Linked DNA regions of Homo sapiens. The protein of the gene in region 4 interacts with the protein of the main gene of each other region in a pairwise test. Each region holds a gene or a part of one and is shown on either strand. Other genes may lie near its edges.

Region 1 (7,377 bases), 3.9 Mb from region 4:
GGAAGAAGTCAGACAAGTTCTCATCCTCATGGAGTTTACAGGCTAGTGGTAGGAGACACAGCTATTAAACACATAATTATACAGGTAATTAATTGCCATTGTGATTACTACAAAGAAGTGCAGAGTGCCAGGAGAGTCAGTTAAGAGTGCTGGAGAACCAGCAGGAAACCAGGAGGGCGCAGACCAAGAAGAAAATTACAGAGGGGAAGAACTCCAGAGGCAGCACCTGGGCCCAGCGGGTGTCAGCAGGGCTCAGGTCAGAGAGAGGCAGGACCTGCATGGAAGCTGAACAGGGGAGGCAGGCGGAGAGTAGAGAGCAAGTCATCTCTGCAGGAAGTGAGGAGTGGCCTCATGGAAATGGGTGGCGGCTCTTGAGACCATCCTTTCTCCCTTTCTTTCCTCCCTTTCCTTCCTTCCCTTCCTCCTTTCCTTTTTCCTTTCCTTTCTTCCTTTCTTTTTTTTTTTTTTTGAGACAGGGTCTTACTCTGTTGCCCAAGCTGGAATGCGGCGGTGCCATCAGAGCTTACTGTAGCCTCAATCTCCCAGGCTCAAGTGATCTTCCCACCTCCCATCTCAGCATCCCAGAGTAGCTAAGCCTGTAGGTGCACACCACCATGCCTGACTAATTTTTGTAGAGAAGGGGTCTTGCCATGTTGCCCAGGCTGGTCTTGAGCTCCTGTGCTCAAGCAATCCTCCCACCTCAGCCTCCCAAAGTGCTGGGATTACAGGCGTGAGCCACTGCACCCGGCCTTCCCTTGCTTTCTTGCTGATCAAAAATATTTATTGAGTATGCCATTCTGAAAACATTAAATTATTATCTTATTTGCCCACTGAGGTAGGTACCATCCCCGTTGCTACACAGACAAGGAGGCCAAGGCTCAGTAGGGTCAAATGTCTTGCCCCATCTCAGGTCACAGAGGTCTTGTGTGGCTGAGCTGGGGTTTAGACCTGGATCTGCCTTATTGCTTAGCCACAGGATTCTCTACTGCCCGGTCTTGATCACGGAAAAGAAGCTCTTCAGATCACACCCCTCAGCCTCACCATCATCTAACAGGTGAAGAAGAGAAGCTCCGAGGGGTAAACCAACTACCTGGTCCCCATTGTAAAGGTGGTGAGTGTCTGAGGGTTCTCCAAGGAAGTGCTCTCCCTGACCCATGAGGAATGTTCACCCTCCTCTGCAGAGGCAGCCAGGTAGAAGGAACCCTGACCTACTGGAATGATCTGGAAGTCAGTGGACATCTTGGGACTGTTTGGAGAGACAGGCTCCCCCTTCGACGGTACTGTTCAGGTAGTGAGGCATGTGGAAGGGACACACTAGTGGGTCCTGATTAGAGGAGGAAGAATGAGGAAACCGCAAATAATTCATATATTTTGTTTAAGGGAGACACATGAGTTATGTGTGTGTATAAAGACTAACAGGTGCCAACAGTCAACAGGTTTTGCCAAACTCTGAGGATTGCCAGGTGGACCAGAGCCAAGTCCTGCAGCTGGACTTCTGGCAGAAAGGGTCCCTTGTGGAGGCCAGAAGGAGAAGCTGGGACCAGTTATAACCTGGCTATCTTGGCTCTCCAAGTGCTCAGGAATCTGGAATCAATGAGAAGCGGAGATTCAGGCCGTATCTGTCCAAGGAGGGGGAGAAGAGGAAAGAATGGGAAGGGAATTAACTTTTACGGCAGACTCACACATGCCAAGCACTTCACAGGCTACCTCAATTAACACATGACATGGCGAGGAGGCTGGAGATGTGTTTTAGCCATGTGCTGTGGAAGAAGAAAAGGCAGAACACAAGTATTGGTAAGCTATCAGCCATCACCCTCACATAGGCTGACCCCCACGATGGGAAGCCCCACACCTTTTTTTTTTTTTTTAAGAGAGGGTCTTACACTGATGCCCAGGCGGGAGTGCAGTGTGGTGATCATGGCTCACTGCAGCCTTGACCTCCAGGGCTCACGCGATCCTCCACCTCAGCCTCCCAAGTAGCCGAGACCACAGCCACGTGGCACCACACTCAGCTTTTTTTTTTTTCTTTTTTGTAGAGATGAGGTTTCACTATATTGCCCAGGCTGGTCTCACACTCCTGGACTCAAGTGATCCTCCTGTCTCAACCTCCCAAAGTGTTTGGGATTACAGGCATGAGCCACCCCACCTGGCCAGAAAACTCCTTCTTAACTGTGGATTGAAGGGCAACCCCAAACTTCAACAAAATGTGAATTGGATCATTTCATAAATGCTGCTGAGGAAAATGGGTAAGTGTGGAATAAATTAAAATGAGACTTGTACATCACTCCCTAGACTTCTTGATTTCAAGGGAGCTAACGAGTTAAATCATTTAAAACTGCCACAAAGATTATGGGAAAACAGAAACACATATGCACCTCAACTGTGGAGGAGTGACAGTTTTTTAACTAAAATTAGTAGAGACCATGACAATCAGCTAAACAACAAGAACGAAAAAAGCAAGGGGCTGGAAAAATATATAAATGATGAGTTTGGTGACCCAGTTAGGTGGGAGAGTAAATATAAACTATGAGGGAAATACCCAGCATCCAATGGACAGACAGAGGGCCAACAACTTTGAGACACTTGGCAGAGGAGGGTCAAAAACTCAGGAACTATTTTAGTCTTTATAGTACTTAATGATATGCAAATATTGTGTCACAGCCAAGAAGACCCTAACTCTTATCAACGAATTTAGCAAAAATCAGTTAAAATGATGAGGCCCAAGGCTGATCTGTAGGAAAACCTCTGGGCATAAGAATCAGCTCAGCAGTCCGGAGGAAACCTGACAAGATGATGTATTCCTGTGCCCTGGGTGCACACGTATCTCACCCTTGGGGACAGATCTCAAGAAAACAACTCAAGTGCAATAGCAATTCAAGAGCGAGACTACCTGTCTGCCCAGGTGCCTGCAGTTATAGGCAGGTTGCCTAAAATCCTATGCTTGGATGTTCTGTTGCTATAAGAAGTCAGAGAGACAAGGGAGTTCATCCCAAGTCTGCCATTTACTAGCTGTGTGACTTTGGATAAGTCACTCAACCTCTCTGAGCCTCAGTTCCCTCTTGGATTAAAATGGGAATAGATCGCCACCTCCTTAGGTTGTGTTAAATGAGGTCATGGCTGTCAAGTGTCTACACAGTGCCCTGCATGGAGTGTTTGACAAAGGGTAGCTGTTGCTATTGGAGGATGACCACTGGACAGATCCTGGAGAGACAGTTCCTGCTTGCAAAGGATGAAGTAACATCAGGAAGTCTCAGCAGCTTTCTATCCTGAAGAGGAGCTGGTATCTTTGCCTCCTAGTTTATTTTTATTACAAAGCCAGAAAAAGGAAAATAAACCTCTGCCACAACTACTGACTCCACCAAAATGCAAAGGGAAGCTCTTCAAAGAGTGTTACATTGGTCTAATGCTGGGAGGAAAACGCTGGGTGAGGCTCCCACTCCCACCCAACGGTTTGAAGACTGGGGTGTCCCCAAGGGTCTGGAAATGCACATTTTTTGAGGCATGCTCTGTGACATGGGTTTTATAACAGTGAGTTGGGAATTTTCACCTCCGTTTTGTTTTTGAGACAGGGTCTTGCTCTTTCACCACTGCTGAAGTACAGTGACACGATCATGGCTCATCGCAGCCTCGACCTCCCGGACTCAAGCGACCCTCCCACCTCAGCCTCCCCAATAGCTGGAACTACAGGCATGTGCCACCAAGCCTGGCTAAGTTTTAAAAATTTAAATGGGGCCTCCCTATGTTGCCCAGGCTGGTCTCAAACTCCTAGGATCAAGTGATCCTCCCGCCTCGCCCTCCCAAAGTGCTGGGATTACAGGCGGGAGCCACCTCCGTTTTGAGAGAGAGAAAACCTGCCCAAGGTGGTAAGTCAAGAGACCCCCTATGACAGGTCCCCAGAGCCCTGCTGCTAACCACTGCACCTTGCTGCCTTCAGCTGCCCTGCCAGGAGCAGCTCGGGTGCGTGGCATGCGCCTGAAGAGATGCAGGAGGGAGGGTCTTGGAAGGGAGGGCTGGGCTGGGGGCAGGCCCCCCAGTGCTGGGGGGGTCGAGGGTCCTGGGCTCTCTCCCACCCGTTCGATTCCGGGAGCCCCTGAAACGCGCCCCACTGCACCGCCCTTCTCCCGCCAGCAGGGGGCGCCGAGGAGAGCGCGGGCTGAAGGCAGAGCCGACGCCGCTTCCCGGAGTCGGGACTCCGGGGTCCAGACCAAGGCTGCCGCTAGCCCGCGGCGAGGCTCTGGGACGACAACCGGGCGGGACTCAGGACCCCGGGCCCTGGCTAGAGGTCCGCCGCGCAACGCCACCACCCGGGTTGGCGCCTGCCCGGAAGCGCGGGCGTCCAGGGGGCGGGGCCGGGAAGCGCTTCCGGGGGCGGGGGGCGCGGGCTGGGGCGGCAGCCGGAGCGGCGGGGACTGGCCTGGCGCCGGCGGCGGCGGAGGGGGCGCCGCGGGCGGGCGATGTGAGCGCGGCGCTCTGGACAGGTGAGGCACGCTGGCCGGGGGCGGCGAGCAGCGGGCTAGGCGCGGGCGGGGCAGGCGGGGCAGGCGGGGCGGGGGGCAGTCCCCGGGCCGCTGTCCGGCTCCCTCTGGGCGCGGCGGGGCGGGAGCCTCCGCGCCTGGTCAGTCCCGCGGGCAGGCGGCCGGCGCGGGCGGGAGCCGAGGCCGGGCGGGGTCCGGAGGCCCCGGGCACCTGCTGGGGTCAGGCGCGCGTCCCCGAGGGGCCAGCTGTGCTCGGTCCTGGAGTCCCGGCGCCGCTGGCCCGGCTGAGGGTCGCGCTCGGGCAGCTGCCCTGGGCTCCCAGCCTCCGCCCGGGGCGTCTCGGGATCCCCAGCTTCCGGGCCCCTAGCCCTGGGGGCGCTCCCTTTTGTACGGGGAGGGAGGGCAGATGGTTGAGTTCCCTGGAGAGCCGGCCGGGCCAGGGGTCGGCCCTTCGGGTGGCTGCCACGGAGCCGCTGCCTCACGCCACCGCCTTCCTCCAGGTAAACAGGCGGCGGCGACGGGTTGCGCTTGGCCCCAGACGTCTCCGTGGCCACTCGCGCTCAGTTGGTCCTGCCATTGCGGAGGGCTGGGCTGGGGCTGACCGGGGTTGTAAACAGTGCCCTTCTAGGCCAAGTGGCTGTGCTTTCAGGGCGGCACTCGTCTGGGAGTCTCTGTCTTGAGGCCTTCCGCAAGCCCCTTCCATGCTAGGACTCAGTTTCCCCATGTGATCATTGAGGGTTTCATTTAACTCTCTAAGAACCCTTCTGGCTCTGCCATTCCGTGTATGTCTCAAATTGGAAGGGCTGTCCCTGATTCAAGATACTGGGCAGTTTCGCTGAAGACTTTGTCAGTGTGGACTTTTTAAGCCACTTACTGCATTTTGTTTCAGACAGGCTTTAAAATGATTTCAAGAAGCGTTTTCTAAACCTCACCTTAATCCTCATTCATCCCTTGCTTTTGTCCCTAGTAGTAGTTAATCACATTCCGCCGAGTTTTTGCATGCAGAATTTTTTGTTGTTTATATTTGCCCATTTTCTCTTTGTTCCCTAGTCCAGGCCCTCTTTGCTTCACATCTGGATTATTGCAACAGCTTCTAAGCTGGTCGCTGACTCCAGAGGTTCCCCCCTCCCCCATCCTTCCTTTATGCTAAAGCCAAACTTACTATAGGAAGTCAAAAAATAGTTGAGTGCTTGCTTGCTTATTAAATGGCAAGATGCTGTTCCATGTGGTGGGAAAGTAGTAGAAGGCACACTTACAGTCTCCAGGCAGCTTTACACAGGGTGCTGAGACATTACTTATGAAAAGGTAATTTTGATGAGACAAGGCTGTGTGCTGTAGAATTAAGAAGGAGAGATGGAGGTCACTGTAGGCCGAGTGGTTAGGGAGGGTTTAGTGAGGGGCGGGATTTGAGCCGGGTGTTAAAGGATGAGTAGCATTCAGATAGGAAAAGAGGAATCAGGCCCAGTGATCCTATGGAGTTAGTGAATAGACCAGTCTCCTGGCAGAGAAGGGTTCATATAGGAGGGAAGTAGGAGGAGAGGTGGGCCGCGGCTAGTTCCTCAACTCAAACACTAGGTCAAAGTTGAAACTACTGAAGGCATTGGTGAAGAAGCTAGAGGCCAGGAGATCAGTTAAGAGGCCACGGCAGTTATACCACTGTTCAAAGCTGAGTAGTGGCCTCTTGCCTGCCACGGTATGTCCAGCCACCGCCCACCCTGTCTTTTCAAGACTCTCCGTGGTTTGGCCCCACCCCACCTACCTGAACCTTATTCTCTGCTTCTCCAAGTCTGTCCCCTGCAGAACTGAGTTAGTTACGGCTTCTTGGGTTTTGCTTCTGTTGTTCCCCCTTCTGAAGCACTGGCCTCCTTTTTCTTTTCTGTGCAAATTCTCCATTTCACTTCCTTCAAGCCCCTGCTGCAGATATACTTCCTCCAGAGGGTGTTCCCTGACTTCCCTGCCCCCATGGCTTTGTGGCACTCGGATTCAGCACTTGTTCCTTGGCTGTTGAACTTGTTCTTGTCCCAACTGGAGTGGGAGTTTTTTTAAGGGCATTGTGTCTTAATACTCCTCTCGGAGACCTTATAGTATCTAATACTGGGGCTGGACTTCTATAATAGGTACTCAAATACTTCCTGATTTTTGTTGGTAAACAACTTTTTGTTTTGTTTTGTAATTTGCCTTTTTTTTTTTTTAAGGAGAATCTGTTTTTATCAGCTTTCTGTGTCATAGATAAGTGATATGTAATGCTACCATTCAAGGTGGATGTTTTCAGCTTGCTCTCTTAGGGTGCAGAAAGCACAAAACGAATCTTTGAAACTTTGAAACGTTTCCCTCTGATCATGGGAAAAGGTAAAAGTCATGTGATTCTTCATTCGGAGGCTGTGGGGAAAGAACAGCAGCTTTGGAATCAGAGACCTGGGTTTGAATCCTAGCAAGTCTGCTTACCAGCTCTGTGAAGTTGAGCAATTTATCTAATGCCTCTGAGCCTCCGTTTCTTATTTGCAGTGTGGAGGATAATAAAATCCAATGAACTGTAAACGAAAATGGAACGAAGTAGAAAAATGTGCAGCACCTAGTAACTGCTTAGTACATTTTCATTATTGTTATTGTCATTATTGGGTGTACATTTATCAAGGTGGAGAAATGATAAGCTGCTGAACTGTGTACCTACTGAGTTTTGGATTTCTGCACCGCTGTGTCCCCCCACTTTTGCCTTCCATTTGAAGCACTTGTCTAAAATGTCAGTACCATGAATCTAGTTACGTTTTATTCCCGTTAATGTTCATGTTACTTTAGTTTAAATTCTGCTTAATGTTTTTCAAACTTCTTAATTGTGTCTATTTAATGTTTTGTAGCTGACAAACTGCTGAATTTAGCTTAGTGAAGGTCATCAACTGAACGC
Region 2 (8,037 bases), on a different chromosome or scaffold from region 4:
AGTCCCGTGGCCATGCTTGGACTTGGGCACAGGTGCAGAGACGTCTGAGCTGAATCCCAAGGGCCTCATCCTGATCAAAACCCAGTGTCCTCTCCCGACGCGCACTGCAGAATGAGCAGAACATCTGCGTCCCATTTCTAGTACCGTGCACGGAAAACAAACCCAAATGATCACGTGTGGATGCTCTGTGTGTGCACCAAAGCCCCCGCCTAAAATCAGAGGAGAGATCTGGAAAGATGCCCGGTGCTTTAATGCACCCCGTTGAAAAGGACAGAGGGACAAGAGGACAGGTGGAGATGTTGGTCTTTTCTCCATGCTCCTTATTTTCTCCAAATTGCTTGTGTTTTTAATTAATACATTGAGATATTCAGATAACATGAAAATGTGAAATAAAATGAGAGGCTGTTGGCAGGCTGTCACTAACATGCCCTGCTTGCCTGTTTGCAGGTATGGATCCTGGCGGGAGCCAGTCAACCCCTATTATGTCAATGCCGGCTATGCCCTGGCCCCAGCCACCAGTGCCAACGACAGCGAGCAGCAGAGCCTGTCCAGCGATGCAGACACCCTGTCCCTCACGGACAGCAGCGTGTAAGTCCCGCCCCGGATACCCAGTCCCTCACGGACAGCAGTGTGTAAGTCCGGTCCCAGACACCTTGTCCCTTGAGGACAGCAATGTGTAAGTCCTGCCCCAGACACCCTGTTTCTTGCGGATGGCAGCGTGTAAGTCCCACCCTGCTGCAGAGCGCGGCCAGCTCAGAGGGGGCTTCGTGCTGACCCAGAGATGCCTGGGCTTTGTCTTCAGGAAAAGTGTTTCCTGGCTCCCCAGGTCTCAGTGAGAGTGCGTCTGGACATGCAGGCAGGCTGTACCGCAGAGGCTGTCCTCCAAGCAGTACAAGTGAGGGCTCAGCTTTGTGTCGGTTGCTTCTCTCTGTGACCAGGGCTGCTGGGACCTCCCTATGAGGAAGGATCGAGGGTGAACCTAAGACAGTCTGTAGGCTGCCCGGGCTAGAGTTTGCTCTTTGGTTTTCAGAGTCTGGGGTTTCAGCTTAAAGACAGGCACAGGCCAGCTGCCTCACCACTGGCTGTGGCGAGTGATGTGGTCCCTGAGGGTGGCGTTTCTGCCGACGCTGGTGCAGTACAGGGTCCTGTCTTGTCCCTGTCACCCACTTGGCAAGGGGCTGGGAGCAGGAGTGAGGGAAGATGCTGTGGTTGTGCTGAGGCCTGGGCCACACATGTGTGACGCTCGAGGTGACAGGCAGAAGCTTATTCTTTCATTGTCCAGGGAAACCCCATGTGTAGGAACGTGCTTGTTTTATGACCTCTTCCCCTGTGCTTCGCAGCTGGCTTTTTGGGACCTATGTACACCCCAGCCATTAGATGATGCCAACAGTCTTGTTGCAGTAGGGCACTGGCTGCCAGCCTGTGGGGGTCATTTGGGGTTTTGGTTACCCATGAAGCTCAGACCTTCCCAGCTCTGGTCTGTGCGCCACACGCCACCTGCCCACCAGCCATCCTAGCCAGGGCTGGGGCCGAGCCGCAGGAACCAGGGTCTCCCTGCAGCAGCCTCAGCATTGGAGGAAGCCAGCGGCTATGAACTTGTGAGCAGCTGGAGCCCGCGGACCACCACCCTCCATCCCCACTGCGGCCAGTGGTGTCCCAGATGTCTTTCCCGCTTAGCTGGGTTCTCCATGAGGAAAGCCTGGAGATCTGGATAGGGCTGGAGGAGGAGAGAGGGACTTCTCACCTACTGGTGATTCTGCCCATCTTTTTATGAATATGTTTTAAGTGATGGTCCCACTGTATGTACCATTTTTATGGTTCTTTTCATTTTGAGACAGGATCTCACTGTCACCCAGGCTGGACTGCAATGGTGCGATCTTGGCTTACTGTAGCTTCTGTCTCCTGGTCCCAAGCAATTCTGCCTCAGCCTTCAGAGTTGCTGAGGCTACAAGCGTGCGCCACCACGCCTGGCTAATGATTATTATAATTTTTGTGGAGACGAGGCCTCACTATGCAGTCTCGAACTCCGAGGCTCAAACGGTGCACCCACTTCAGCCTCATGAGTGCTGGGATTACGGGCATGAGCCACTGCATCCGGCTGATGATGATGATTATTTTTGTGGAGACGAGGCCTCACTATGCAGTCTCCAACTCCTGGGCGCAAACTGCACCCACTTCAGCCTCACGAGTGCTGGGATTATGGGCATGAGCCACTGTGCCTGGCTGGTTTGTTCTTTTCATTTGCCTGTCTTTAAACATTTTTCCAAAACCTGAATTTCAGATGAGGAGAACAAGTTGTCACATTCTGTTTCTGAACCAGATTCAGCCAGCCCACATTGCCGTAGGTCTTGGCCCCTTGGTTTTTCCCCAGGTAGCTGTGGTAGTGCAGGGGCAGCTCCCTGCCCCTTCCGGGCAGAGCTGCTGTGTGTGGCTTCTCCTGGTTTCTTTCATCCTCGTTTAATTTTGAATCTTCAAAATAAAATGTTGACGTGATTTTAGCAGCACCTGACTTGAGGTTACTGGAGTTGAAGCAGTGCCTGCCGTGGTCCTGAAGCCTCGGGCCAGGTGGTTGGGTGCAGTGCAGCCCACGGAGCGCCTGACATGCATCCTAGCATCTGGTTTCCCTCTTCCCCAAAACTCTGTTACTACAACAAAAAGTAACCTGCCAACTCAGTTTTCTCAAAAAGTCTCCTAATTCTCTCCAAGAAAAGGGACATATGTTTCCTAAAGGGAGGACCTAAAATAAATAGGTATTTTTTTTCTTGATATTCTGTTCATCTTGGTTTGTACTGAAGTGTTTAACAATTTGGAATGTGAAATTGCTACACGTACTCGAAAGCAAATCAGAGGTAAAAAGTGGACAGGTGAAGAGCATCATTCCGGTGGGGCAGCTGCCCTCAGCTTTTGTGCTGGCGGCAAGCTCACAACATTCCACATGGCACTCGAGAGGCTGTGGGCTGTGGACACAGATGTGGGGTCAGTGTCTAATCCACGGAGGCCTGTGGAGGTTACCCAATCCAAGTATCATGTCTAAGAAACCAGTAGGTTGGTGGCTTCAGGACACTTCAACAAACCCCGAGGCAAGTGTTAGGTGAGTTTTAGATTCACTTGTTCCTGACGCCCACCGTGGCTGAGCCAGACCTGGACTCGGCTCACCATTGCCCACAACACTCAGTGGTGCTGTGACAGCCGAGGATGCCTCAGGAGTTGCCGTGTCTGCCACGCAGCCCTGGGTCGGGCGCTCTCTTCAGTCGTCCTGTGTCTCCTGGCAGCTCTGAGAGGCCCCTGGGTGCGGCACGGATCCCTGGAGCTGCCGTGCTTCCGAAGGCAGCTTTTCTTTCTTTCTTCCTTTTCTTTTTTGAGACGTAGTCTTGCTCTGTTGCCCAGACTGGAGTGCAGTGGCACAATCTCGCCTCACTGCAACCTCCGCCTCCCGGGTTCACGCCATTCTCCTGCCTCAGCCTCCCGAGTAGCTGGGACTACAGGCACTCGCCACCACACCTGGCTAATTTTTTGTATTTTTAGTAGAGACGGGGTTTCACCGTGTTAGCCAGGATGGTCTCGATCTCCTGACCTCGTGATCCGCCCGCCTCGGCCTCCCACAGTGCTGGGATGACAGGCATGAGCCACTGCGCCCAGCCCGAAGGCAGCTTTTCTAATAGCTGGGAGAGGGCGAGGGCTTTCATGAAGGATGGTTGTGCGTGAGTTATCTTAACCCTGGGGTAATTATTCAGACCATGTATAATCTGACTTTCGTGTTTTAATGATCTTCTAAAGGGTTCATAAAGAAAACCTGTTGCGGGCTGGGCGCGGTGGCGCATGCCTGTAATCCCAGCAGTTTGGGAGGCCGAGGCAGGCGGATCACGGGGTCAGGAGATTGAGACCATCGTGGTTAACACAGTGAAACCCCGTCTCTACTAAATAATACAAAAAATTAGCCGGGCGTGGTGGCGGGCACCTGTAGTCCCAGCTACTCGGGAGGCTGAGGCAGGAGAATGGCGTGAACCCGGGAGCGGCTTGCAGTGATCCGAGATCGCGCCACTACACTCCAGCCTGGGCGACAGAGCAAGACTCCGTCTCAAAAAGAAAAAAATAAAAGAAAACCTGTTGCTAAAGAGCTACCTTGTGCCTCCCTCAGAGACCACACTGCCCTGCCAGCTCCTGGAGAGAAGCAGAGTGTGCAGCCTTGGCATCTCCTATCTTTCCGTGGGGCACTGGTTGTCCTGGCTGCCCACTGTGCAATCCTGAAATGTTTTTGGTCCATTTAGCAATGCCCTCCAAGGCAGGCACACTGCACAGTGGTCTAGGCCACAAGCAGGGGCCAGCAAACGTTTCCCGTGCAGGGCTGGCAGTGAATATGTGAGGCTTTGCAGCCGCATGCAGTCCCTGTCACAGATTCTTCCCCCACCCTTTAAAAATGTAGAAACCTTGGCCGGGCGCCGTGGCTTGCGCCTGTAATTACTCCCAGCACTTTGCGAGGCCGAGGCGGGCGGATCACGAGGTCAGGAGATCGAGACTCTCCTGGCTAACACAGTGAAACCCCGTGTCTACTAAAAATACAAAAAAATTAGCTGGGCGTGGTGGCGGGCACCTGTAGTCCCAGCTACTCAGGAGGCTGAGGCAGGAGAATAGCGTGAACCCGGGAGGTGGAGCTTGCAGTGAGCCGAGATTGTGCCACTGCACTCCAGCCTGGGCGACAGAGCGAGACTCCATCTCAAAAAAAAGAAGAAAAAAAAATGTAGAAACCACTCTTAGCTGTCAGGCCCTAAAGAACAGGCAGGCACAAGGAGGCTTTGTGGAGGTGCCCAGTAAATACCAGCTAGGAAGACGCGTGGCTGGGCACCTGGGCTTTACCATCACGTGTGAACCTTTGTGTGTACATGTTCCCCTGTGCACACATGGGTGCCTGCATCACCTGTGTGCACGTGTCTCAGTGGTGGTGGCTCACAGGTGTCCTCATCATTGCCTGCTGACCGGCGGTCGGGGCCAGGAGCTCTATTGGCACGGTGCTGGCCCTCCTGCTCCTCTCTGAGTTAACGGCTGCCTCTTTCTCCTGGACAGGGATGGGATCCCCCCATACAGGATCCGTAAGCAGCACCGCAGGGAGATGCAGGAGAGCGTGCAGGTCAATGGGCGGGTGCCCCTACCTCACATTCCCGTAAGTACCGGCTTTGCGGTCCTCAGCCCATCGTCCTCCCCGCTCAGCGTGGGCCTGGTGAACTGGTCCGCGGGAAAGGCACTTGCCTGGCCTCCCACGAGCCAGGCTTACCTCTAGGCGTAAGCGTGTGATCCCAGCAACATCTGCAAGTGGCCAGTCCCTGAGGGCAGCAGGGGACATCAAGTCTCAGGCAGCATTTAGGGCCCAGAGGGAGCTGTTCATTCAGAAGAGCCCCCATGCCCCAAGGCCACACCCTCCCTGGTGGCAGGAAGTGTCTTGCCTTGTGAAGGTGGATGCTTCCCCTCAAGAGGGGGAGCTCTGAGCCTTTCTCAAGACTCAGAGCCCAGGCCTGGCCCCTGCACAGCCCTTGGGGAAAACTTGGTGTTTTTGTGGCTGAACAGTGGTCGTCTCCAGGTAAACGTCTTGACTTTAAAGCTGCCTTGGCTTTCGCTGTTGCATAGAATAATGGCACCTTTGCCCAGTCTCGGGCATGGGGGCTTGGCTGGGCAGTAGGTCATGGAGCTGAGTGCTAGCTGGAGCCCAGCACAGCCTGACTCCGTCTACAGAGCATTCCTGCGCTGATGAACAGATTAATGATCTTTCCTTATTTTGATGGGTTGACTTTGAACAGGAAAGATGTTACGGGAAGATGAGAAAAGTGTTTTCTTTTTTTTTTTTTGAGATAGGAGTTTTGCTGTCACTGCAAGCTCTGCCTCCCGGGTTCACGTCATTCTCCTGCCTCAGCCTCCCGAGTAGCTGGGAGTACAGGCGCCTGCCACCACGCCCGGCTAATTTTTTGTATTTTTAGTAGAGATGGGGTTTCACCGTATTAGCCAGGATGGTCTCGATCTCCTGACCTCGTGATCCGCCCGTTTCAGCCTCCCAAAGTGCTGGGATTACAGGTGTGAGCCACTGCGCAACGCACTGTTAGCCGCGGTGTCTGAGGTTAAACCACGTGACCATCTGAGTGTCTGTGCAGGGAAGTAGGCATTTTGAGAGCACTGACACAGTCTTGGTCAGGATTTCTTAGCCTTTTAGCTTTTCTGCAGACATCAGTTTCCAAGTCAGGAATTTCTTTATGGTTGAAAAGAAAGGATGTTGGTTTGTTATCACTTCTGAGAAGATGCCAGCCAACCCTTGACTCAGGTTTGGCTAAAACTAGGCACTGATGGTGTCTACTTAACAAAAAGTGGCTGACACTGTAGGCTGTGTGTGGGTGCGTGCGTGTGTGCGTGCTTGTGCTGTGGAAGATCTGGGGCCCTGCCTGCCAGGCATGGCCCAAGGCTATCATGAGGTCACAGCCCAAGTCGAGGGCACCTGCACAGCCACCGGCCTCTGATTTTCAAGTCACAGGTCCTGAACGTCAAGAACCCGCGGAGCCGCTGGGATGACGGAGGCCCGAGAGACAAGACAGCTGAGCAACCACAGGCCCGGAACAGCCCTCTGTGCCCATGAGGACGGGGCTTGAGTGGGCTGAGGCCCGCGGGAGGCTTCTGTCCACAGGGGTGCCCCGATTTTGGGGTGCTGGTCAGAGTCTTCGTGTGTAGAAAGTGCATGCCACAGACTCTGGATGAGGGGGCATCAGGCAGACAACCTCCCCTCAGAAGGGTCAGGAAGGACAGAAGCTGTGGAGTGCGTTGGTGCCTGGAACGTGGACCTGGAAAGACCTCTCAGGATGCAACACAGAGAAAAGAGGATGCCTATGGCGAGTCCCTGGTGTCGTCGTCAGAACCTTCCAGAACCGAGGGAAGCACAGAGCCCTCAGGTCCTGGAGGGTCACATTTGAGTCGCCAGGAAGATGAAAGCCAACAGAGGCGGCAGGCACAGACAGGAGCAGGCCCTGCTGCGTTCCGCACCCCCAGAGGGCCCTTGTGTGGTGGGGTGGGGGCCGCAGTGTGCGTTTCTGTGTGAACAGTCTGCAGCAAACAACCTCATCGGAGGCTCTGTAGGAACCTGCATCAGGTCCATGTGGCCTGTCAGGTGGGGCTGTGGTTGGAACCTTCGGTGGGAGGTCCCTCAGCCAGAGGCCCAAGTGAGAAACCCACATCACGGGCACAGCTGCCCGGGGCCTGCTCACTGCTGCTACTGGGAAACTGGACCCGAGGATGGTGGTGAGCAGAGGCGGGGGGAGGCCCAGGAAGCCGATAAGCTAGCAGGACGTGCCGTGGTTGCACTGCCCACTTCTGCTCTGTTGAGGGCCTTGGTTTTGCAAAAGCTATGCCGTTTCTCTGGTGAGTCCATGGCTCTGCAGCAGGGACAGCAGGAGGGGAGTAGCTTAGACGCTCATAGGAGCAGAACCCTGTTGTGGCTGCACCCACGGAGGCCCAGGCTGTGTGCACCTTGTGAGACTCTTTAACACCTGCCCATCAGAGTTGGAGCAGGTTCATCCCGAAAAGCCCCCTGCCCCCACTGTCCATGGAAAAATTGTCTTCTACAAAACTGGTCCCTGGTGCCAAAAGGTTGGGGGCCGTGGCTTTACAGCATCTGGTACCAGAATGCGTGCCCTGCGGGGAGGGGCCTCTTCATCTTTAGCCTTTACAATTACTTGGAAGTTTCACGTTTTCATTTACTTGGCTTTTTCCTTTATGATATTTTTTTCTGTTCCTCTAAAGCTGGAGAGGTTGCCATTCTCTGTAAATCTGATGACTCTGACAGTTTTGCTGTTCTCAGAACCGTGGTGACGCAGCCTGCAAGGCCACCTGGAGTCTTTTTATGGAGCTCGCGTGGCGGCATGAGTGCTCCTGTTGGCCCCTCAGCCGTGCTGCTCTCTGGGCCTGATGATGGGCTTTTCATCCTGCCCTTGGTCTCTGTGGTGCTGACTGTTCAGACCATAAGCGCGTCTGTCTGCGCCTCTGGCTGTCTGCAGACACAGCAGCCGT
Region 3 (7,978 bases), on a different chromosome or scaffold from region 4:
AGTTTAGAAATGGGGAGAGACATCCTCCTAGATCAGATCGTGGGCTCAGTAGGCATGTTGATTCCCAGGGAGAGGTGCCAGGAACAGCATGGTAAAGAATGTACTCTTCACAGCTCACATCCCCAGGTTGCTGATGCCACTCACTCCCCCTCTCCTGCCATCGAGTGGCCTTGCCGGACACATCACCCTACCTAAAAAGCCAGTAAATGAGAACCTGTCAGCTATAGCCATCATTTCTGAGATGCGATTTTCTTTGGGATTGAGCTGCAGTGGGCAGTGGCTCCTTACACTGTAATTTTAATTCTCTGCCTGCCCAGCCTCTCTGTCAAAGTAGCTGGTGATCTATAAAGATGCTAAAAGGCACCAGGGGACTTTGCCATTTAAAGGACTCCTGCAGTGAATTCTTTTGTAAAATGAATAATGGCACCCTAATTTATCCACTTTCTAAATTTGGGTCCATGGGGGTGTCCAGGGCATGCTTATGTGCTGTCACCAGCAGACAAACAGAGGGAATGGAATCTGGGGGTTCCTTCCCTGCTCTCCCGCCATACTCAGGATACCCTACCATAAGTGATTTCCTCTCACTGACTTGCAGAAAATGTGTGAGATACCCAGCAAGCTAAGAAGGCAGTTTTGCTGGGTATCTCATACCCAAGGCTGGGGTTTGGGTGATCTGAGAGGTTAGCTCCTTGATCCTAGGATGGAAGGGAGAGCTTATATAGAAGCTTTTACTTGGAAGGTTTTGTATCCTAAGGTCAGACATAGCTATATTACCAAGCCTAAATGCCATGTGGCCCAGGAAATAATTTGGACATTTGTTCTAAACCACTTGTGGTAGGTATTGGTCTCTCTGCAACTCAGCCATTAATTAGAAATTAGTTTTGAGCCTGAATTTTAAAAAGCCAAGTGTTGCCCCCAGCCCACACACACACACACGGACATGTACAGTACAAACCCCAGATAATTACAACAGCCAAAGAGAGAAGGAAGTGAATTTCCCAACCAGAAGCGTAGGGAAATTCAGATGGCTTTCTTTTCTCCCAGCAGAGGAACAGAAGGCGGAGCTAAGGGCAGGAACCAGGAGTTGGTCAAGGAGCTATAGGAGGTGATGAGAGTAGAACCAGGGGTAGGAGCTGGTCTGGTACCCCTCACCCTCTAATTGGGAGCCCAGGGAGAAGGACTGAAAAGAAGATGGGAGTGGAAAAGAATAAAGCCAGTTTCTGCTTCCCAGGGATGCAGAGATTGGGGCATGCTGTGTCTGCAGAAGCTCCTAGTCATTTCCGCCATAATTGTGAGAGAGAGGGGCAGCCCTCCCACAAGATTTTTCCCTTCCCATATCACTTCCCTGAATCCCCTTCCTTTCCCCCCAGTACAGTTAAACCTCTCTCTAATTTGGAATGTTATATTTGAGAAGATGGCCACTGTGAATAAGTGACAAACGGAATGACAGTGTCTATTTAATGAAATGCATGTCTTCAAAATATATACAGAACTCGATGAACAAGGCTTTTTCCACTCCTCAGGGAGCATGCATTAATGAATAGATAGGATTCAAAAGTCTGTTTTCTGGTATGGGTTAAATATCCCCTCCTACAGACATATTTCCACCACTAATTTGCTTAGTACACCTTTTCTTCACAGATAAAGGAAAATGCAAGCTCAGTTTTTCTTCAGATTATGAAGAAATTCCAAATCCACAGGGGTTTGGATTAATGAGGTTTTGCTGTACTGCCTCCCCTTATTCCTCAACATGAAGTTCCCACCTCGGATTGGGGATGGGTGGGAGGGGGTTTCAAGAGGAGGAGGGTGGGATGGGCAAGGAATATACACAGGTGAAGCCAGAGAAGGGTTAGGTTGGGGGTGCGGTGGGAACTTGCTGTTTTGATCTGGTTTCCTGGTGTGACACTCTGGGTTAAAGGCTTGAAGGCCCCTGTTAGGAGTCTAGGGGTGAGATTCTCTTCTCTCTGATCCCAGAGGACGTTAACTTCTACTGCAGGTGAGAAACAAAATAGGAGGATGGTGGGGACTGTCCTGGGAGGAGGGGGTGGTCCATGGCTTGTGGTGTGGGCTGGCTATAGGGGAGGCCACTGCTAGGGGACTGGCATCCAGGCCCCCTTGAAGCGTCTCAATAAGTCCGCGCTCTCCTTTTTGGTGTCTTGCAGGAGAGGCAGCTTCCCCCCTTGGGTCCAACAAACCCGCGTGTGACGCTGGCCCCACCGTGGAATGGCCTGGCCCCCCCAGCCCCACCACCCCCACCCCGGCTGCAGATTACGGAGAACGGCGAGTTCCGAAACACCGCAGACCACTAGCCCACCCAGCATCAGAGACCTTCTCTTCCTTTCCTGTGCACCCCACCCTGTAACAGCACCAACCACCAGGATTGGACATCACCGAGGAACAGCGGGATTGCCTCCCCGAATGCCTCCCTGGGAGGCACACTGATTGCCCACCCCCACCACTGCACCATTTCCAGGAGGGAGAGTGGGGACCCTCAGCCGCCCCCTTTTCCTTCCCATTGGGGTGCTGCCCTCTCTTTGACCCCCAGGGACCCTTGCCCCAGGACACCGCCTACCCCGTACAGACCCCTTCACTCCGGGGTGCTATCCCCATCCTCTGCCTCATCGTTCCCCTGAGCACTGGGGGACAGACCCTCACCCCCACCCTGGGGGTGTGGCACCTCCAAACTTTCAACTTCAGGGTGATTTTTTTAGCAGTAACCAGAGCTGACAATCTAACTCCCCTCCACCGCCCCATTTTGGCCTCCCCTGCCCCCCTTGTTATGGGGAGGGGACCCCGGGTGAGGGGGCCCTATTACCCCTTGATTTCTCAGGAGCGTCTGGGGGGGCTCAGCACGCACAAACTCCTTCTCCTTCTACCACTCTTAAATTTACTCCCTCCCCACCCAGAACCCAGATGGGGTGGAGGGGGCCACCGGGGCAGGGAGGGGGCGGCAAGGGGGGAATGGGAGTTGTCTCCCCTTCTCCCCACACCTGATCTGCTCTCGGCTGGTCCCAGAGCGGGGTGAGGGGGCTTATGCCCCCCCCTCCCCCAGTGTGTTGGGTGGGGTGGAATTGAGGTTAGGGTGAGGGGTCAGGGTTTAGGAGGGTGTGTATGTTGGGAGGACAGGCTAGTTGATCTGTCCTACTCTGACACACAGTCCCCTCTGCCCCTTCCTTCTCTCTTCTTGGTCTCTACTCCCAGGGGGAGGGGGGAACTTACTCTAGGAAAAGCCATGTCTCTCTCCCCCAGGGTGGGGGGACCTGTGTTGGAGGAGGGGTGTTGGGGGGCCCCCTTCCATGACTCTGTCCCCTGGGGGAGGTAGGACAGGGCTGGGCTTCCCTCTCATCCTCCCCCTCCCAATCTCCTTCCACCTCCCTCCCTCCCGCCAGCTCCACGATTTTTCGGTGTTTCTCTGTACATAGTTTTCTGGCGGGATAGGGGAGGTAGGATGGATGGGGTTTGGGGTGGGTAGGCCATGGGAGGGGAGAAGCCCCTCCTTGGCACCCCCTCTTCCCTGACTGCTGTCCCCTACCCAGCCTTGCCCCCTTCATCCTTTTGCGTTTGGTATTGAGACTCTCCTAGACTCTACTCCTCTTTCTTTTGTATGGACAGTTCCCCTTCAGTCCCATCCCCCTACACATACACCCAGCCGGGGCCAAATTTATACTTATATAAAAGTTGTAAATATGTGAAATTTTATCCCTGTGCCCTTTCCCCACCTCAGGCCCTACCCCTGGACCCTCCCCAACCTTCCTTCTCTCTTCTTTGGCTGTTGTAATTATCTGGGGTTTGTACTGTACATATCCGGGGTGTGTGTGTGTGGGCTGGGGGCAACCCTTCTGTACAGAGCTTCCTGGCCCCCTCCCCCCCCGCCCCTCTGCTTCCCTCCCCACCCACCACCTCAAGGGTAGGGAGTTGCTCTTCCTACCTGTTTTATTTTGTTTTCTCGTTCTCCCTCCCCACCCCACTCCCAGCCTTATCTATCCCCCCTCACTGTCCCCTTTTCTCCACTCCCAGCCCCATTTCCTTTTTTTCTGGAGTGTGTGGTGAAACAGAAAAAAACATGTTTAATAAACGGAGATTGTTCTTTTATCGCTGTGCCGACTTTCTTAGGCAGGGCTCTCCAGACCTGTACGGTGGTAAGATCTGCTTTCTGAAAGGAAGCTGACAGCCTGAGAGGAAAACCGTATATCCCCACCTGATGCCACACTCTCCTCATAGAATGTCACTCTCCCCTCCCAATGAGATTTTTTATATTTTAGAGCAGGAGTTTTGCACCGGCCAAACTTCTCCAATCTAACTCTCCCCTCACCACTGTGTCACTTAGTCCGAGGCCAGGAACAGCGGCGTTATCTGATAAAAGAGTTCATGTATATATCCACATTTATCTCTTTTAAAAATTACCTAGAAATAAGGTTTCTTTAATTGCTGGTTAAAATGCTCCCGTGCAGAAAACAGGAAAGAACCTGCCTGGTTCCTTAGCAAATCTGAGTTCCAGTCCCAGGTCCACTACTATTAGCTGAGTGACGCTTCCAGCCCGTTTCCCCCGCCTGGAAACTGAGGACGGCAACCCCCACCCTCGCAGGGCCGGTGGGAAGACACAAAGTGATGTGGGCAAGTGCCAGGCCCACATGGTAAGTACCCAACTAATCTCGCCCCTCTCAGGACCTACCGGGGGCGGGTGCTACACTTAATCACCGGGAAACGCAGCTTTCCGGGGCGGCTGACGGCCCACCCCCTCCGACCGGGCTGTTCTCTCCCGGGCCCTGCCTCTCGGTCCTCTGCAGCGGGGAGGACTTCAGCAGCTCCCCGGGACGCCCGTTGCGAGGACACCCTGGGCCTGTGCCCTCCTACTAGCACCGCCCTCCTCGTCTGCAGTAGCCAATCAACACGAGGCTTGTAGGCTGCCGTTCCTCGATTGGCTACGGCTCTAGCTCCGCCCGCCGCACTTGGCGACGGTGTCCGGCGGGGAGGCGGCGGCTTCCGGTCTGGGACGGAGCTGTAGCGGCACTGTAACTGCGAGGGCAGCGCCGCGTGTGTAACGGCGGGGGCGTGTCGGCGGGAAGGACAATCGGGCCGGGACTCGCGGTGTCCGGGTGACCGCGGCTTCCCGGGAGCAGACCTCTGTGGGCACTGTGAGGCGGAACGGAGCGGCGGGGCAGGAGCTGTTCTGGGCAGGTGAAGGCAGGCTGGTGGCTGAAGGACCTCCTTCTTATCTTCCACAGGGGCTGGAAGTTAAAACCCCTGTTGGTGTTTAGTGGTGGTGGTTGTTGTTGTTGTTTGTTTTTGCTTTCTTGGTGTGCGGGACTGATTTGCAGAAACCGCCACTGACTTAAAAGTTTCCAGTTATTGCTCGTGGGGAGGGGGTTGTTTGAGAAGATGTGGCTCCCTTTATCCAGGGCTTCTGTGACCTCCATCTTTTTCCTCTGCAGCCTTCATCCCGCGTGGAGTCTACCCCCAAGCCCTTCTCCTCTTCCCAATTCTTGTCACCTTCGAGGAGGCCATGGAAACCCCAACACCTTTGCCGCCTGTACCCGCCTCCCCGACCTGCAACCCAGCCCCACGGACAATCCAGATCGAGTTCCCACAGCATAGCTCGTCTCTGCTGGAATCTCTGAACCGCCACAGGCTAGAGGGAAAGTTCTGTGATGTGTCCCTCCTGGTGCAGGGCCGGGAACTTAGGGCTCATAAAGCAGTGTTAGCTGCTGCCTCTCCTTACTTCCATGACAAGCTGCTTCTGGGGGATGCGCCTCGTCTCACTCTACCGAGTGTCATTGAAGCCGATGCCTTCGAGGGGCTGCTCCAGCTCATTTATTCAGGGCGTCTCCGCCTGCCACTGGATGCTCTTCCTGCTCATCTCCTTGTGGCCAGTGGCCTTCAAATGTGGCAGGTAGTAGATCAGTGCTCAGAAATTCTTAGAGAATTAGAAACTTCAGGTGGTGGAATTTCAGCCCGTGGAGGAAACTCCTACCATGCCCTTCTTTCCACTACATCCTCTACAGGAGGCTGGTGCATTCGCTCTTCGCCTTTCCAGACCCCAGTACAGTCCTCTGCTTCTACTGAAAGCCCTGCTTCCACTGAGAGCCCTGTGGGAGGGGAGGGAAGTGAACTGGGAGAAGTGCTGCAAATTCAGGTGGAAGAAGAAGAGGAGGAGGAGGAAGATGATGATGATGAGGACCAGGGGTCAGCCACACTCTCTCAGACTCCTCAGCCCCAGAGAGTATCAGGGGTTTTTCCCCGTCCTCATGGACCCCACCCACTGCCCATGACTGCTACTCCCCGAAAGCTTCCAGAGGGTGAGAGTGCACCACTTGAGCTTCCTGCCCCTCCTGCACTGCCCCCCAAAATCTTCTACATTAAGCAGGAACCCTTCGAGCCTAAGGAGGAGATATCAGGAAGCGGAACTCAGCCTGGAGGAGCAAAGGAGGAAACCAAAGTGTTTTCTGGAGGGGACACTGAAGGGAATGGGGAGCTAGGGTTCTTGTTGCCTTCAGGGCCAGGGCCAACATCTGGGGGAGGGGGTCCATCCTGGAAACCAGTGGATCTTCATGGGAATGAAATCCTGTCAGGGGGTGGAGGACCTGGGGGAGCAGGCCAGGCCGTGCATGGGCCTGTGAAGCTAGGGGGGACACCCCCTGCAGATGGAAAACGCTTTGGTTGCCTGTGTGGGAAGCGGTTTGCAGTGAAGCCAAAGCGTGACCGGCACATCATGCTGACCTTCAGCCTTCGGCCTTTTGGCTGTGGCATCTGCAACAAGCGCTTCAAGCTGAAGCACCATCTGACAGAGCACATGAAGACCCATGCTGGAGCCCTGCATGCCTGTCCCCACTGTGGCCGTCGGTTCCGAGTCCATGCCTGTTTTCTCCGCCACCGGGACCTATGCAAGGGCCAGGGCTGGGCCACTGCCCACTGGACTTACAAGTGACTGCTGAGGCTATACACTAGCTTCTAGAACAAGATAACCACTGCTGCTGATGGATACTTTTCCCTCACTGCCATGGCACACCAGTCATGGATCTTGTAATCATGCCAAGAGAATAGATACATTATGGACCTCTTGTTCTTAGATATGGGCCTCTCAGCCTGGCAGATGTGGAAACTCAAATTTCTCGTCCCACTCCAGGTTTTGGCTAGCCAACCCTGCAGGAAAGTGGTTTATAGGCCATTCATACTTAAGTTGATCACTTGCCCATGGTGGACATTTTTGTGGTGGTGATGTCCATTAAGGAAACCAGATTTTCAATTATTTAGTGAGAGAAGAGTTAGAGCAAAAGACAGTGGTAAATGTTTTATTCCGTCTCCATGAGGAATTGAAGGAGTTGGTCTCCACCTAGAGATACATTTGATTTACAGCTTAAGTAATTCAGAGGCTAAGCTCTAAGCTTTTTTCTCTCATTGCTGGAATGATTTAAGCAGAAGTCCTTTTGTGTACTTTTAAAATTGTATCTTTCCAGGAGCCCCTCAGATTGTACCTTGCTTTCTCACCAATAGACACCTTCCCGACACTTTTTTAATGTTGTAGCTGAGCACTTTAACAAGTTGAGCATTCCATGTTTCATTCTTAGAACCTTCTTTAATAGAGGGTCTTCCCTCAACAGCCTGTGCCTCTGGTCTACCTTTGACCACCACTGATAACTAATATATTGGTCACAATGACTGGAATGTGACTAGTGATCTCAGGAGATGGCACTGTCCTAAAGTGCTGTCAGGGTGGCACCACTGCTCTCTGAACAACTTACCTTGGTCAGAGGGACTCAGGTTTGGGACAGCACAAGCTGAAGGCTGGAGAGTAACTTGCATAGTAGGACCATACCTCTTCCTTTCCCATCCCACCCACATATGATAGACAGCCCCTCTGTTGAGATATGGAGGGGACAGATACTGGAATCGGGGGTGGGACTTGCAGTTACTTAAAATTTTTTAATAAACTGTGCCCTGAAACCTAAACTGACAGTGGACTGGATTGAGTAATTTGTGT
Region 4 (7,484 bases):
CCCAAAGTGCTGGGATAACAGGCATGAGCCACCATGCCTGGCTTGTTTTTTGTTTTGGTTTTTGTTTTTGTGATGGAGTTTTGCTCTTGTTGCCCAGGCTGGAGTGCAGTGGTGCAATCTTGACTCACCACAACCTCTGCCTCCCGGGTTCAAGTGATTCTCCAGCCTTAGCCTCCTGAGTAGCTGGGACTACAGGCATGTGCCACTACGCCCAGCTAATTTTGTATTTTTAGTAGAGATGGGGTTTCTCCAAGTTGGTCAGGCTGGTCTTGAACTCCCGACCTCAGGTGATCCGCCTGCCTTGGCCTCCAGAAGTGCTGGGATTACAGGCGTGAGCCACCATGCCCAGCCTAGAAAGTAGTGTTTTAAACTAAGGAAACAAGTATCATTAGGTCTGGAGCCAAGAGAGAGCTGTTATGTATCAGGCATTAAGGAATAAGAATAAAACCTGGACTCTGCCATCAGGAGCTGATATCCATTGTTACAGAAGTTAAGATGATAAAGATTGGACTTTGGGGTCCAGATGTGGCCAGGAGAAGCTGGTTGTCTCATCTGACTCTGAACTAAGGGGTTGATTAATACATAAAATTCAGTGAATTTCTTGATGCACTGAGATTATAGAGCTATATCTCAAAGACAGACCTAGCATACCTACCAATCTCATAGAAGACTGGTATATAAAGAGAATGTCAATTCATTATGTCATTAGTTTACAGTGACTAGTGGACTGGAATTATCGTGTTGGCATGGCAAATTTATCTTTTCCCTTGAGAGAGACAAATGGGAAGCCAGGTTATGAGAAAATCATTTATGAGAGTATGGAATCAGAACATGGAGACTTTCACCAAAGGAATTGCTATATAAAGGAATCAGTATGCAGACAGTTTGGGGAAAGATACCTTCTCCATTGTTGAATGGGTTTTTCCAGTGTTTACCTTAATTATGATTGGGTTTCATTAATCAGTTTATATTCAAGAGGTTAGTCTTCATCCAGGAGACAACGGGAAGTCACTGAAGGAGTTTAGGCAGGGGTGGGGTATAATCAGATCTCTGTTTTTGAAAGATGTGGTGGTATGAAAACTGTATTAGAGGGAACATAAGCAGGAAGCCAAGGCAACATTTATGAATCAGTTCTAGTAGTCCACATAATGACTAATGATTGATAAATAGGGATAAAGTTTAAAGAACAAAATCTAATAGGGATTGATTCGATCTATGTTACCGCTACTCAGATTCCCACCATATAGCTCATGTCGTTTTTCTACATCAAGTATCTTATTTTCTTTATAAAGAAGTGTTCCTTAAAACGGAGTTTAGATTTTTCCAGAATGGACAGGACAAAGAACTTTGTCTTTGCCTAAACATTGTCCCGTTAGTTCTGTGACTTTCATTTTATTGCAGAAATACTTGTATGAATAAGTTCATATCAATTTAAACAGAAAAGGGCTTGGCCAGGAATTGGACAAGCAGTGTCAGTGCAGTTGTTTAAAATATAGAGCAAAGAAAAAGAGCAAAGGAACCCATGTTTGCTGTAGGTTCTCTCTTCTTCAGAGACCAGTTTTTACTGAATGATTCCAGAGAGGTGAAAATCTCCATATTAGAGTTCTGAAGTGGGGAGACAATTGCTTTTGCCTTAGAAGAAGCAGGTTCACAGTTTTATATAAAATAAGATAATTATTTCATCTTTACTTGTGTGGGTTATGTTTTAGTTTGCTTTAGAAACCTGATAGAATTCTCATTTGAGAAGTTAAAAGATACTCTTGGACTATCCCAAGCACTATTCTCGTATAAGTATCTTTAAAAGTTGAACGAATGCCAAGCTATTTACACAAATACAAGTCTGCTCTTTAGGTGCAATTGGCACTTGATATTGGTAAGGTGTAATTTTTAACAGCCTTTGAAACCTGTTATAGTGGCTTCCCCTTTCAAGGAAGATTTCATTTGGATACATACAAAACAGATATGACAACACAGATTTGTTTTTGGAAGGTAGATCCAGCTTTCTTAATTGTCTGAGTTTCCTTAAATTCAACCTTTTTACATTTCTGTTCTTTAGGTCTGCCAAAATGTCTGAAAGATCAGATCTCCTTCACTTCAAGTTTGAAAATTATGGAGATTCAATGTTACAAAAAATGAACAAATTAAGAGAAGAGAATAAATTTTGTGATGTTACAGTTCTCATAGATGATATTGAGGTACAGGGACATAAAATTGTGTTTGCTGCAGGTTCCCCCTTCTTAAGAGACCAATTTTTACTGAATGATTCCAGAGAGGTGAAAATCTCCATATTACAGAGTTCCGAAGTGGGGAGACAATTGCTCTTATCCTGTTATAGTGGTGTGCTGGAATTCCCTGAGATGGAACTGGTAAATTACTTGACTGCTGCAAGTTTTCTTCAGATGAGCCACATTGTAGAACGGTGCACACAGGCCCTGTGGAAGTTTATAAAGCCAAAACAACCAATGGATAGTAAAGAGGGATGTGAACCACAGAGTGCTTCTCCCCAGTCAAAAGAACAGCAGGGAGATGCCAGAGGCTCCCCAAAGCAGGACTCACCTTGTATTCATCCATCTGAAGACAGTATGGATATGGAGGACAGTGATATTCAGATTGTTAAGGTAGAATCTATTGGGGATGTATCAGAGGTTAGAAGTAAAAAAGATCAGAACCAGTTTATTTCTTCTGAACCCACTGCTTTACATTCATCAGAGCCCCAGCACTCCCTGATAAATTCAACTGTGGAAAACAGAGTAAGTGAAATAGAACAAAACCATCTCCACAATTATGCCCTTTCTTATACAGGCAGTGATAACATCATCATGGCCTCAAAAGATGTCTTTGGCCCTAATATTCGAGGTGTAGACAAAGGCCTACAGTGGCATCACCAGTGCCCAAAGTGTACCAGGGTGTTTCGTCACCTGGAGAACTACGCCAACCATTTAAAAATGCACAAACTCTTTATGTGTCTACTCTGCGGCAAGACTTTCACTCAGAAAGGCAACCTTCATCGACACATGCGTGTGCATGCCGGAATTAAACCTTTCCAGTGTAAAATCTGTGGGAAAACCTTTTCTCAGAAGTGTTCCTTACAGGATCATCTTAACCTTCACAGTGGAGATAAGCCCCATAAATGTAACTATTGTGATATGGTTTTTGCACATAAACCAGTTTTGAGGAAACACCTTAAACAGCTGCATGGCAAAAACAGCTTTGATAATGCCAATGAGAGAAATGTACAAGACCTCACAGTGGATTTTGATTCTTTTGCATGTACAACAGTCACAGACTCTAAAGGGTGTCAGCCACAACCCGATGCAACACAGGTCCTGGATGCAGGTAAACTGGCCCAAGCTGTCCTGAACTTAAGAAATGATAGTACTTGTGTGAATTGAGTAGGGGCTTCATGCTCACAACTCGAACTGACTGACAATGTGGCAATAGTCTTAGTCTTTTTAGGAGTGATTTTGCTAGTTTGACTTCTCCAAAGCCTCTGTGTAGGTGGTAGGGAGTGAGTCAAAGCACTAATAGACCAGGCAACTTACCACTTGGAGTGGATTTGCCTTACTTTTGCCCTCTCCCATTTTCTGTTTTGAGTTATTTATCTTGTAAAGTCTGTTTTCCTTTCCCAAGGAATAATTCCTTTTGTCTACCTAACATTGACTTATGTCTTAGACTGACACTGTTTTAGGCTTTTCACTAGGCACATTCCGAAGGTACCAACAAGTTAATAACGTCACCTACTCTCCACTAATAGATGCTATGCTAAGAGAAGTGAATAATCTTTCTTTGGTAGAAAATAGGCTGAGATATAAGGTGATATTGCTATTGACCTGAAAATGTGATAGAACTTCTGGTTGCCTATTGATTATTCCTCCATGTCTGATAAATGAATCTGCTTCCTACCATTTGTACTTGTCTTGGAGCTGGCTATAAAGAAGTATGCTGGTTTGTTATGTACTCTTTTCAACAGTATCATAGCCCAACTTCATCTCATTGAATTGTTCACATATACCAGAGTACTCTCTCTTGAGGAACACCTGCAGGCAGATAGTTAGGGATGACCATGAGGAGCATAATCAACAGGGATAGAAGTACACTTATACAACAGCACTTACATGGGCGGTTTCTCTGGTAGCATGTCCCATAAGAGGCCATATGCTTATAATTAATGTGTAACTTGTTGATGCTTTTGAGATCAGGACTGCTCCAGGCACGCTAAAAATGTGCTAAAGTATAGTGGGCTCTCTAAAAAGAGGCTATTTGGGAGTCTCTGAATTTTGTTTCAGAGTTTAGCCATCAGAAAGGTGAGTTTGGCCATCAGAGTTTTGTCCTGTGCACCATAAAAGTCTCTGAATTTTCGTTTCCTCATGTACCTTAATTTCTAAAACGGATGATAAAAGTTAGGTTGGACACAGAAGGGGCAATCAAATTTCTGTATTCAGATACCTCTTAAAGGTACACTGTGCCACCTTGCTGCCTTTGATTGCAAATACAAAGTTAATTTTCAAAAAGGAAAAACAAAACAGCTCTTTTTCCTAAAACACATGTTGTACTTCAGACCTAAAATTCTAAGTCTTATTTGTTTCTCACCCATGAGTTAGATTTAGGTAATAGTATTAGTAGAGTCCTTAGAGAATCTTAAGAGGTCATTTACTCCACCTCTTTCATTTTAAATTGGGGTATCCAAAGCCTGAAGAGGTGGCCTGGCCAATATTGACCAAGGTATAACTAAATATGAGCTAGCATCTTCTTCCTTCTTCTCGCTATCCCTTGGCTTTAAAAGATTTAGTACATGAAGAATAATGCATTAGCAAAAAGCTCCTAGTTTGTGTTTCCCCTTTGTGTCTCCCTGTTGGCTTTCTGAGACAACCTGAATTTTGCCAACAAAATATCGCAGAGGGATTTATATTAATTATTTTTTAGTTAGATGAATATTATATTCTTCCCATCCAAGTGAGTGATTTGCTAGGTTTGTTTAGGGAGGGAAAAAGCAAGAATAATGTGAGAAGAATCTAAATGCGAAGTTGATTTTGTGTGGAAAACTGTTTATTAGTTTCCATCAGGATTTTCTGTTTTTATTTTTGAGCTATGAGAGTGCATGCAGATTTGAAAAATTAGGCTTGCATAGTCAGAGGGGATCTTCAATTGTTATATTTGATACGTTTACATGTATCATTGTTATCATATGTAAATTATCATCATGTGAGTCAGATGTGAAGTATGATTTTTGTCTTTTGTTCAAATATTTAAAATGATAATACAGTTGAGTGGTAAGACTAATAGGTACCTTATGCCTAACATCACTCATTATATGGTCTAATGATGCTTCCTAGCATTGTGATTTTTACATGATCCAGCCAAAGAGTACCAATTCTATGCAATAGTGAGACTCTACCCTGTCAACCAAACAGCATTTTTTGGTATTTTCTGTCAACATCATTTCTTCACAGGGAAATTTCAAGTTGGAGTGCTTCGTTTGCTCACATTCATGTCTTGTTTTTGTTACTGGTTTGAAGACTAAAAGGCACGGGTTCAAATAAGATTGGTCTCTTTGGTTGGAGACTATTTCTGGGTTCATTCAGTTGTTCAAGAAACATTAGTTAAGCACCTACTGTTGCTAGACACTATGCTAGATACTGAGGATAATGAAGGTAAGATTGATATAGTCCCTGCCCTCATGGAGCTTATAGTCTCATGTGGTCTTAGTGAAACAAAGTCTCAATTTGCTTTTATACTAGAAATAATAAAGAAAGCTGCCTTGCTGTATTCGATCAGTTAAAATCAGCAACTTTGTGCTTTTGTATCAGTAAAACATTTAGTTCTCACCTTTTGAAAATGCAAACCACTGAAGTGATTTACAGTCTCCTCCATTTTTGGCTGGAGAGGTGTTCTGTTTCTGTGAGACATTTTTCTAATTTTTGTGGAACTTCACTTTCCTCCTTCTTTGCTTATACGTGTTTGTTAGATTATATTGCAAAGAAGTCAAGTTACTGATATCCAGTATTTTACAGAGGAAGATGACTTTCAAAACTAGTCATATTTCTGTAGAGGAGGAAGATTTTTAAAACCTTTATCATTCAGCATTTGTATTTTATGGATCCCCAGGAGAACTAAAAAGGAGATGACTCTCTACCATAGTTTGGTTTAAAAAAAAATTACTCTGTCAGTTATTTATTTATTATTTAATACTAAACTCCAAACTGAAGTGGCTCTGAGGTAAATCAGATATGATTTTAATTTAAGTTTCTTTATTAGCAGATCTATAAATGGAAGGTGACCAATGTCACTGCTTCTAAAATACTGTCCTAAACAACCCAGAAGATTTTATTTCAGCTCATGAATAGCTGTTCTAAATCTGTTGTATGTTAGACATACTATGAACTACCTCTTCACTTATTATGGGGAAGTTTCCTTAATAAAAGTGTGACGATTAAAGCTCTGGTGTCATTGGTTATTTTCTCACTCTCCCCTCCTTCTATTCTTTTTTAATTGCTTTACTTTGAATACAGGAAGGTCTTCTTTATGTATAGTCTTAAAAATACATATTAAGCATGCTGAGCTTGCCTTCAGAAAAAAATACGAATTAATCAGAAAGTTGTTACTAGATTCATTTACTTCCACGAGAACCTGTTGCTGGAGGAGCAGAGCAACTGCCTTTAAGAATTGGTTCAGAGGCGGCCGGGCGCGGTGGCTCACGCCTGTAATCCCAGCACTTTGGGAGGCCGAGGCGGGTGGATCACAAGGTCAGGAGATCGAGACCATCCTGGCTAACACGGTGAAACCCCGTCTCTACTAAAAATACAAAAAATTAGCCGGGCCTGGTGGCAGGGCATTAGTCCCAGCTACTCGGGAGGCTGAGGCAGGAGAATGGCGTGAACCCGAGAGGCGGAGCTTGCAGTGAGCCAAGATCGCACCACTGCACTCCAGTCTGGGCGACAGAGCGAGACTTTGTCTCAAAAAAAAAAAAAAAAAAAAAAAAAAAGGAATAGAATTGGTGCAGAGGCCGGGCGCGGCGGCTCATGCCTGTAATCCCAGCACTTTGGGAGGCCAAGGCGGGTGGATCACCTGAGGTCAGGAGTTCGAGACCGGCCTGGCCAACATGGTGAAACCCCGTCTCTACCAAAAATACAAAAAGTAGCTGGGTGTGGTGGCAGGCACCTGTAATCCCAGCTACTCGGGAGGCTGAGGCAGGAGAATTGCTTGAACCTGCTAGGCGGAGGTTGCGGTAGGCCGAGATCGTGCCACTGCACTCCAGCCTGGACCACAGAGTGAGACTCTGTCTCAAAAAAAAAAGAAAAAGAATTTCTTCAGTCATATCTTCATTCAGCACAAATACTTGATGCCTACCAAGTGCTAGACTTCGAGAATACAAAGATCAGTAAGCCACTGTCCTAAATAACTCTGCCTAGATGAGGCACAAATTAATACAGGCGTGTTAAGTGCAATAATGAAGGCAGGAAAAGGGATTACAGGTTTCAAACTGG

Evidence for each region.
Region 1: the proteins of ZBTB26 (region 4) and ZBTB34 interact in binary tests that used the Homo sapiens proteins (3 or more experiments, as listed by UniProt).
Region 2: the proteins of ZBTB26 (region 4) and AXIN1 interact in binary tests that used the Homo sapiens proteins (3 or more experiments, as listed by UniProt).
Region 3: the proteins of ZBTB26 (region 4) and ZBTB9 interact in binary tests that used the Homo sapiens proteins (3 or more experiments, as listed by UniProt).

What each region holds. Positions count from the first base shown.
Region 1 is NC_000009.12:126,856,262-126,863,638, forward strand, and holds the start of ZBTB34 (zinc finger and BTB domain-containing protein 34), read left to right. Parts: upstream 1-4,377; 5' UTR 4,378-4,478; intron 4,479-4,917; exon of another isoform or gene 4,918-4,975; intron 4,976-7,330; exon of another isoform or gene 7,331-7,377. UniProt on the Homo sapiens protein: May be a transcriptional repressor.
Region 2 is NC_000016.10:307,094-315,130, reverse strand, and holds part of AXIN1 (axin-1), read left to right. Parts: intron 1-447; coding exon 448-588; intron 589-5,061; coding exon 5,062-5,158; intron 5,159-6,505; exon of another isoform or gene 6,506-8,037. UniProt on the Homo sapiens protein: Component of the beta-catenin destruction complex required for regulating CTNNB1 levels through phosphorylation and ubiquitination, and modulating Wnt-signaling.
Region 3 is NC_000006.12:33,449,598-33,457,575, forward strand, and holds ZBTB9 (zinc finger and BTB domain-containing protein 9), read left to right. Parts: upstream 1-4,978; 5' UTR 4,979-5,178; intron 5,179-5,432; 5' UTR 5,433-5,503; coding exon 5,504-6,925; 3' UTR 6,926-7,947; downstream 7,948-7,978. Other genes in the region: SYNGAP1 (ras/Rap GTPase-activating protein SynGAP), read left to right, coding at 2,163-2,309. UniProt on the Homo sapiens protein: May be involved in transcriptional regulation.
Region 4 is NC_000009.12:122,914,517-122,922,000, reverse strand, and holds the end of ZBTB26 (zinc finger and BTB domain-containing protein 26), read left to right. Parts: intron 1-2,056; 5' UTR 2,057-2,066; coding exon 2,067-3,392; 3' UTR 3,393-6,435; downstream 6,436-7,484. UniProt on the Homo sapiens protein: May be involved in transcriptional regulation.